2 separate regions of the Homo sapiens genome follow, and region 1 is linked to region 2. Evidence: fine-mapped expression QTL. A gene starts in region 2. The other region holds a variant in brackets. All regions are shown on one strand. Distances are between the middles of the regions.

Region 1 (4,399 bases), 83 kb before region 2:
TGCCTGCCTCGGCCTCCCAAAGTGCTGGGATTACAGGCGTGAGCCACCGCACCTGGCCAGGGTGGCAGCTTTGAAAGCTAGCCAAAAGCCTGCTAAGGGAAGTAAAATATTCTTAGAAAAGTAACAAACAAGAAAACCTACTCATATTACATTGGCCTGTTTTTTAATACTTCCTAAGGTATTCATGGCAAGAAGAGCAAAGTTCCAGACAGAGGTTCCTAGATTTTATTGGACATAAACATTACCTATGGCTCATTCCAAAAAGACCAACTAAGAATCACTGGGAGTATGGTCTAAAATTTGCATTTTAAAAATAAGACTTTATTTATTTTGATGTAGTTACCCCACTAATACAACTGAGAACCACTGACTTCAAATATTATGAGAGAAAATTACTCCAGGAATTTTTGCAGAGAAGATAATACTTTATCTTGAAAATATTTTAAATATTTTAAAAGATGGAAACTACACAAAAGAACAAATACTCAAATAAAGCTGCAAGATCTTTATGTCATAATTTCAACAAGTAGAGTTTTCACTGGATTATGTAACAAGTAGTGAATTAAATAGATCAGACTGAAAGACTGGAAATTCTCGATTAAAATTATTTAGTCTTTCAAAATTAAAAGGTATCACCTTAGAGAACACTGAATAAAACTGATACAATTTTATGAAGATTTTCCCCCAAACTGGTGTAATAAAAGTAACATACAATAAAAGAATTAAAAATTATTAAACTCTAATTCTTCCTGTGTAAGGTTATAGGTTGAGAGAGATTACCAAGTTTTTCCATAATTGCTTCTTCTAAATCCAAAGAAAAATGAAGTCGGTAAACTAAATAAGTGATTTAAATAAGAAAGTAAACCCTAAGTATTATTGAATAATTTAACAGTTATAACACACAAAGATTTTTAAAATTGAAATTTAGCTATTTCTAAGTAGTAAAGCAAGGCCCAACCTAAGGTATTGCTCCGAAGAGGTTAATTATAGATGAGTTCCAGGATTTTGGCAAAAAGGCAAAATCACTTATAGTACAATAATCTCTACTGTTTATATAAAGCAGAACCAAGTTTTTTTCTCAGGTTAAAAAGTAAATTTCCTTAGATTCCTGAAAGAAAAAAAATCCCCTTTGGTATAAGTAAATTTACTCACTGAAAGTGATAAGTTACAGGAATTTGAATGTGTTTCTTTACTCTAAAGACAATCTAGATTCATCATGCAATTTCCTTTCTAGGACAGCAACATAGATTGAGTTATTACTACATTTCCCCCAAATAATGTCTATAGAACTATGTTATTGCATAGGAGCTACAGGTTTCAAAACTGTATATGCTGAAAATAATTACTCTTTGAAAATGCAATCACAACACAAAACAGGTAAGATTGGCCAATTTGAAAAGCAGTCTCTGTTAAGAGGTAGTTTGTAAATGAAATACTAAGGAGACAAGGATGCTTTCCAGGAGGCTGACAGGATGTTTCCTGAATCTCATTATGGTGGACAGGGCTAGAAAACAGCAGGATTGTGACCTGTTTGTGTTAATGGCACCCAATTATCCAAGGTAAAGTGATACAAGGAACGTTTTTCTGCTTGCTAAATTGGGGGTGGGGCCTTGGAGTACAGAAATCCCACTTTGACATCATCACTTTCAATTGCAAAAAGAAAGGTGAAAGTGTAATTCTAAAAAATGGTACAATATTTTTCTTTTAAAGATCACTAGGACATCTTAAAATTAACTACTAAATACACACATGAACAAAGAAACATAAGAAATGTCATAACCCACGCACTGTTGAAACTACTTTTAGTTCCAAACCCCAGCACACATCAATTGTATCAATTAATTTTTTTATTCAGAACCTGGATCTTTAAGACTGGTATAAACAAAAATAAAATACAAACAACTTGTTATTAACATAATAGCTGCAGTTATTAACTGCAAGAATACAGTAAAAAGGAGTCATACTAAATGTTAATGTTCTTGCAACAGAATTTTCCCAATCACCTTAAGGTAGCAAATTCTGGCAAGAAATGATAATTCATTTCTTATTAAAAATACTTAAAGAATTTCCAAGATTGATCAGTTGTGCCACAAATAAAACAGCAGTTTATTCAAAAGAGCCCTTACCTTTCTCTTATTTTCCTAAAAGATCTGCCATTTACAGGTAACTACTAATTTCAGATCAGTTATTCAAACCAGGGTTCTTCCTGTAAATCCACATCTTAGCTTTATATATAGTAAACTTACACTCATATTCCCTTTCCAGTCTTGAAGCTAAACACTTTTGTAAAAGGAACAATCTAATATCACTTCATATGAATCTTGGTTCTTACTTTTCTTCTATCTCATTTTTATTTTCTTCTATTATTTGTTCTTCCTCCTCA[C/T]CACCAAAAGTCTGTTCCTGCATGGTGGTAAAGGAGAGAGATCTAGCAGCCACTTCTGCAGCAAGGCCAGCAGTGAAGGTAAAATCTGGTGACAGCTGTAGCCGTGCCAGCCTCTGCTTAATGGAGGGCTGTAATGAGTCCCTGGGAGTTGGAGGGGCAGTGGTCAGACCACTTCCATCTGCTTGTGGTTCATCTTCACTCTCACATTGGTAACACATTCTTTCTTCTGCTCCTTGGGGGAAGACTTCATTTGAAGAATTATCTTTATTTTTACCTTCTAGAGAGTTTTCACATAAATACTCAGTCCTACTTATTTCATTGTCTGTTGTGGCGGATTTATTACTTTCCTCTTCAGTATCATTTTTACTGACTTTTCCCATATCTGAATTCATTGATGGTTCTGAATTACTTATGGGTTCCACTGGGTCTACAGGAGACAAGGATTTCAACACGGCTTCAAATAAAAAAAAAGAAAAAAGAAAAAAAATAACTAAGGACCTAGCAATGATTTAAACTTTTAATTCAAACTCTCAGTTTTTTTCTTAAAAAGAACAATAAATAAATAAAAGCTAAATAAAACTTTCTAGTAAAATCAATGAAAATTTATAAATCCAGGAAACTTTATAAGAGAGAAAATGCCTAAGAAATGAAATGAGATAGGGATTTGATGAAGGTTTTTATGACACCTCACATATTATCTTATTTAAAATATTAAAGCAGTGGTTCTGAAAGTGTGTTCCCTGAACCAACATTATCAGTTATCACCTAGGAATTTGTTAAAAATGCAAATTCTTGGGCCTGATCCCAGACCTCCTGAAATGGAAACTCTGGGAGTAGGGACCAGCTATATTTTACAAGCCCTCATCTTGATTCTGATACACACTAAAGTTTGAGAACCATTGTATTAGGGAATAAGCAGCATGGTTTTCACTGATAATACATCAGATAAAAGGCTTAAAGTAATCTAGATAATAATAATATCTTCCATATGTATACATATATATTTACAAGTTAAAACAGCATGGAAAAAAATGCAACATACAATTTAACTTACTTGCCAACCACCTAACAAGACCCTAATGAAAGAAAAGCCATAACTTCTACACATTTTGTAGTACCACGAAAAATACAAATGAAGTCTGCATTCAAGATCAACTATTGTACAAAATATAATACATAAATATAATATATATTCATACGGTAGAAGTTGTCCTTGCAAGGAAAATGCAGTTTTATTTAGCCCCTCTTGATGTTAGTAGGCAGTGGGTTGCTTGCTAGGCAGTCGCTCATCCCAGCATGAGGGGTTAGTACAATACAATATAGTATGAAGCATGACGGAAGGAAAAAAGTGCTTCTCGAAGAGCTGGCGTGTATTTAAAAAACGTTTTTGTAAAATGTGTCCACTTCCAGGAACCATCCCTAAGCTGCAGTAACTCCACTAGAGAAGCAGCAACAACAGAAAAAAAATGGCCACAGCAGGTTCCAGTGCAGACTTTCCCCCTCTAATTCCATGCGGACTTTACCCCTGTAGGCAGAGATGAAAACAGCTCTGGAAGATGTACTGAAATTTTTCATGGGAAAAGCATTCTATGGTATCAGCAGCTTTTTACTTATTTTCACAAACTAAAACAGCATTATGACCCTTTCCAATGTAAACTATATCAAAAGCACATACCTGAAAAAGAGACACATTTCTCTCATTGATAAATCTTTCCCATAATGTCAATAGCATAATTTTAAAGCTATATGAAGAAACACTAAACAATAAAAAAGGATATAAGTTTATATACAATGCTATTTTCAATATATGTACATTCTTAGTTTATAAATCTGTTAGCTCTTAAAGGAAGCAACATATATTAGAAGTTGGTTGATAGTTCACAATTATTACTAATTAAATGGGGTGGATATAATCTGAGTAATGAGAGGATCAATTGACGAGTGTGTTAGAATTTAAGCCTTGAGGCAGGTAGGAGGCTTTACATTTTGTCTCTTGATCTTTGCGCTAGGGATACA
Region 2 (4,399 bases):
TTGAGGATTTGGTGAAACCAATACTCTCTTATTCTTAATGGAAACCGGAATTGGTATAACCTTTCTGCGTAAGTCTTAAATGTTCATATTCTTTCACCCACTAGTTCTACTTCTAAAAATTATTCTGAGGAAAATCAGAGTTGTAGTTAAAAATAGGCTTATATCACTGTTGATTACAATGGTATTTTTTTAAAAAAAGGTTATATTATGATACACGTGAGGGGATATTATAATATTAATGTTTTCAGAGAATGATGAATGGGAAAAGATTCACGATAAAGTCAAGTGAAAAATATATACAAAATTCTACGTGGTATACCTTTTGTTTTAAAAAATATCACACACACATTGTGTCTTAATATAGAGGCTAAAAAATTACACACACATAAACACACATTTACATAGAAATAAAGTCTATAAGAACACATACCGTACTGTTAATAGTTACCATCTTTGGGTGGTGGGATAATGGATGATTTTAACTTGGGGGCTTATTTTCTACAATAAAATGTTCCTTGAGCATATATTACTATTATATTCAGAAATCAAAAATAATGGGTAAAAAAAATACACCCATCAGTTACCCTTACTCTAGAAAATATTTCTCTCTCCTTCAGCTACCACATTCAATCTATAAACATTGCCTCGATTTTAACTTACAAGTGTCTGTCCAAGCCATTATTCCATTACGTCTCTCATTTCATCTCAGGCCCTTGTCTTCCCTAATGAACGCCTCATATCTAGACTCTTCACTTCGGTAAAATGGCCACATTTTCCACTGCTTCTTCATTGCAGCCACATCAAGCCACTTTACATAGCCACCCTCCACACCCCGCCCCCTAAAAATGCACACCAGGTACTTTCACACTTCCCAAGCTTGGCATAATCAGTTCTCTTTCCCTGTAATACATTTTCTCCTGCCGGTTTTTCTAATCCAATTCATAGTTAAAGATTCACCTCGGATATCGCGTACTGGGTGTAGCCTCTGGGAGGCCGCAAGAACAGAAATTAATCCTTCAATGACAGTTTGTACATATTTCAACATTTAGCATTCTGTCCTGTCTGTGCCTCGCTCTCTCGCTGTATGGCATGGGCCACTTCATTTTTAAATTTTCTTAAAATCTAGTTGGATAAATGAAAGTAAAGCGTATACATGCAATACACATACGTACAGGGGTGCGAGTTTTGACCTGTGTCTGATGGAAAAAAATGGCATCAAAAACACTCGCCCGATTTTTTTCATTCAAGATGGCAGAGAACGTCTTAAAATAGTCCCACACAAAAGCACTCACATCTAGAGCCCCGAGTCAGAAGAACTGGCTACACCTAGCGCAACAGCAAAGGACAAAAGAATCGAATCTAGATGCTGAGATGCCCTGGCCCTAACTACCCACAGTAGGTCCCACAAATAGACTTTAAACCGTGTTAGAAAACGGGCACCTGCTGCCTTCATTCCGAGGGCCACGCCTTGACGGTGAACAGTGACCTGAAGCACTCTGGATACTGACCCAAAAAAATCGCGGATGGAAAAGGAGGAGGCTAAGTTGTGACTATCTAAAAGGCACGATTCGGCCCCGCCCCAGCCGGGCGCAGTCCCCCCCGCCGCACATCCATTCCCAGGAAGGAAGAGACACCGCTCCAGCCCAGAGCCTGGCAACCGGGCACCGTCTGGGAATTCTGGGCGGGCCCGAGATAGAGGCCGGCCACGGCCAGGGCGCCTCTGGCTACACCTGTCAGGCGACGACGGACTCTAGGCCCTGAAATCGCTGGGGTTCGGTGGTCGAGGCCAGCTGGAGCGCGTCACCCGATCCCTCGCCCCGGGAACGCCTTGCTTCCTCGATTTCCGTCTCGTCCTTCTCAAACAAAGGCAATCCACACCCACCGCCATTTTCCTCTTACCTCAAAAACCACCTCTTCGTCAAACTCCGGTGTCATCCTTCTCCGCCATGCCACCCGCCTCAGCACGATGGGAAATGAAGGCGGGAGTACAGGCGGCACGGAGCTCCAGCTCCTGCCCGTCCCGTGGGTCCAGAAAACTACAATTCCCAATATGCCTCGCCGCTCACGCCCCCTTTTCGAGCCCGCTTATTGGAGAAGAGAGTGAGCGTGTAAGCGAGAGAGGCGGGAGCGAGCTGAAGCTCGAGCCCTCCGATTGGAGGAGGCTAGGGCTTTTGTCTGCCTTTTACGGCCGCGACTAGCAGGGGGCGCCCGGAGCACTGCTGATTTTTGGAGCCCGAGAAGGGCACGCGCCAGCGGAGCCGAAGAGAGCACTGCTCGTGCCCGCGCCTGGCTGTCAGCCTGCCGCTCTGCGGGGCGGTGCTAGTGCTCGCCCGCCCGACCCCGGCGGCTCGCGCCCGGGAGCGCCGCAGGGTCGCTAGAGTCGGCCGCGTCCTTTGTGTGGCGCTCAGGCTGCGCCGCGGGGCGGCGGGACGGAATGTGGGCGCTGCGGGGGCTTTTCTCTCCTACCCGAACTGTGGGAACAATGGACTGAAAGGGGAAGATGGATTGAGGGGCCGAGCGGGGAAGCGAGCTGCACCGGGGAATCATGACTTCTGCAGCCGGTAAGTGACGGCGCTCGCGCTGCCGCGGGAAAGTTTGTGGCGAGCGCTGCTAGGCTTGGGCTCGCGAGCAACTTTCTTCGCCGGGGTGGGCGAGTTGTGTGCCCCGTACCTTTGCCGAGCACCTCGGCAAGCGCGGAGCTAATGGGATTCGCTGCCGGCTTTCTCGTCTTTTCCTGCCCAGAGGGGCTGTTTGGAAACCCGGGATTTCTCGGGATCTCCCTTCCAAGGGGGACTGTGCTGGGGGCTCTGCACCAGGTGAAATGCGATGTGTGAAGGGCGTTCGCTCATCTCTCCAGCAGTGCGAGGACTTCGCCTTTGCATGTGAAAATAGTGTAGATTCCCAAGTTAATAGATCAGTTATTATAGGTAAAGGCAGTGTTCTCAGCGTGTTCAATTTGGCCACTAAGTGAGTCGCTTTCAACCTTGTATCTGCTGGTAAACCTTTTACCCATTTTAAAGAGGCGTAGACATTGTCATGTCCTGGTGGTTTTACCTCTGTTACCTGAGAAGCAGAGGAGTTGAGATTGTTGAGGTTTTTTTTTTTTTTTTTTTTTTGCTTGTCTGCACCCAATTACAATTATTTTGTTTGTTTCTACCTGATTAGGGTAAACAAAGCTTTATTTTCTGTCTGCCTCCCATAGTTCTTTCCCCTTCATCCAAATGACAAAGCCTCTATCTTTGTGTGGATTTTCAGCAATTCTAGACGTTGTGTTTCTGAACATTCTTAAGGAACAATTTCTGTTTTACAAAATAATTACCAAAGTGGTGTTACGTTCACTTCGTAAGTACATAGGTTAATTTTTAAACCAGAACTTATGTATTAAGTAGAGTGTTATGGGTTATTTTACGTTTTTGTCCACGTTGAAACTTTCATTAGAAATTTTATAGTGAAATAGTTTAAAGCTTCTTCTCAAGGTTACTTCCAGAATCAGCACTTAAGTATCAGATTAAATTTTCATTGCTTTTCTTGGCATTTGTTTAAAATTCTTGCAACTTGAAACTGTCCAACAGCACTCAAATGTTCTGATTTGTATTATTTCTAAAGCCTAGATATATTGTAGTGTTGCATTGCTCCCTGTGATCAGATTACAACAAACGAAACAAGAAGTTAGCCAATAGGAAAAGAAAGCAAGAAGTGGGTGTTGTGTGGGTCTTTCCTTTTTGATGTTATATGCACTTATATGAGATATCTTTATAAACTCTCTTTTCTTTGCCAAAGGGAGGCTTTATACTTACATAAGGTAAATTATTTTCATCCTACATTTCTGTGCCTTACCTTCGTTCAAGAAATTGATTTAAATTAAAAGTGGTTGGAAATTTTAAAATCCTTCCAGCCAGTTTTAGCTCTTTCCTTTTTGGAGGTGTCAAATGTATTTAAAATAACCGTGTCTTATATGTATCAGTTTTCAATTCCAGTCTTAACAGTTTATAAGGAACAGGCACAGAAGCATGTAATTTCACATTTATGTAAACCCAATTTCTAGGGCCCAGACTGGAAGTTCATGATTCTTGCATTTGAATTATCCTAAAATAATGCAAGCTATTTTTGTATTTTATCAACTTTACAATTAAAGAAATCCACAGAAATTTTTGTGGTGTTTAAAGTGGGACACTTCCTGTGTCTAGCCGAGTTGGTTGGTTTTTAGCATTGCTGGCTGAGAAGCATCAACTACTTTTTTGCTCACCCATCTGTTGGATTTATCATAATTCTTTCTGGTGTCTAGATGGGGAATATGGAAGAGAACTGGGGTTTTATTTCTACCCATTCTTATATGTATACATAGTTCTTACAAGCTGATTATGGTGCTTTTTGGGAACAATAGTCAAATTCATTGAAA

Alleles and levels. Positions count from the first base shown, and alleles are read on the strand shown. Sizes are in standard deviations (SD) of each study's normalised expression.
As copies of T replace C in region 1, the expression in CD8 T cells of the gene that starts at base 1,979 in region 2 goes up (moderate effect, 0.71 SD a copy in CEDAR).

The links. PIP is the estimated chance that this variant, and not a neighbour inherited with it, causes the effect.
Region 1: its variant is fine-mapped to the expression of VEZT in CD8 T cells (CEDAR, PIP 0.95).

Annotation. Positions count from the first base shown.
Region 1 is chr12:95,298,603-95,303,001 of GRCh38, reverse strand. VEZT (vezatin, adherens junctions transmembrane protein) reads right to left here. Exons shown (of 12, transcript NM_017599.4): 12 at 203-2,837. The coding sequence ends at 2,329. Among named protein-coding and RNA genes, the nearest start is that of MIR331, 7.6 kb to the left of the region's middle. The variant C/T (reference allele first, on the strand shown) is at 2,384.
Region 2 is chr12:95,215,387-95,219,785 of GRCh38, reverse strand. VEZT (vezatin, adherens junctions transmembrane protein) reads right to left here and starts at 1,979. Exons shown (of 12, transcript NM_017599.4): 1 at 1,900-1,979. The coding sequence starts at 1,935. FGD6 (FYVE, RhoGEF and PH domain containing 6) reads left to right here and starts at 2,319. Exons shown (of 21, transcript NM_018351.4): 1 at 2,319-2,561. The coding sequence starts at 2,546. RefSeq lists enhancers at 1,111-1,160, 1,761-2,000, 1,465-2,060, 2,061-2,655 and a silencer at 2,231-2,460.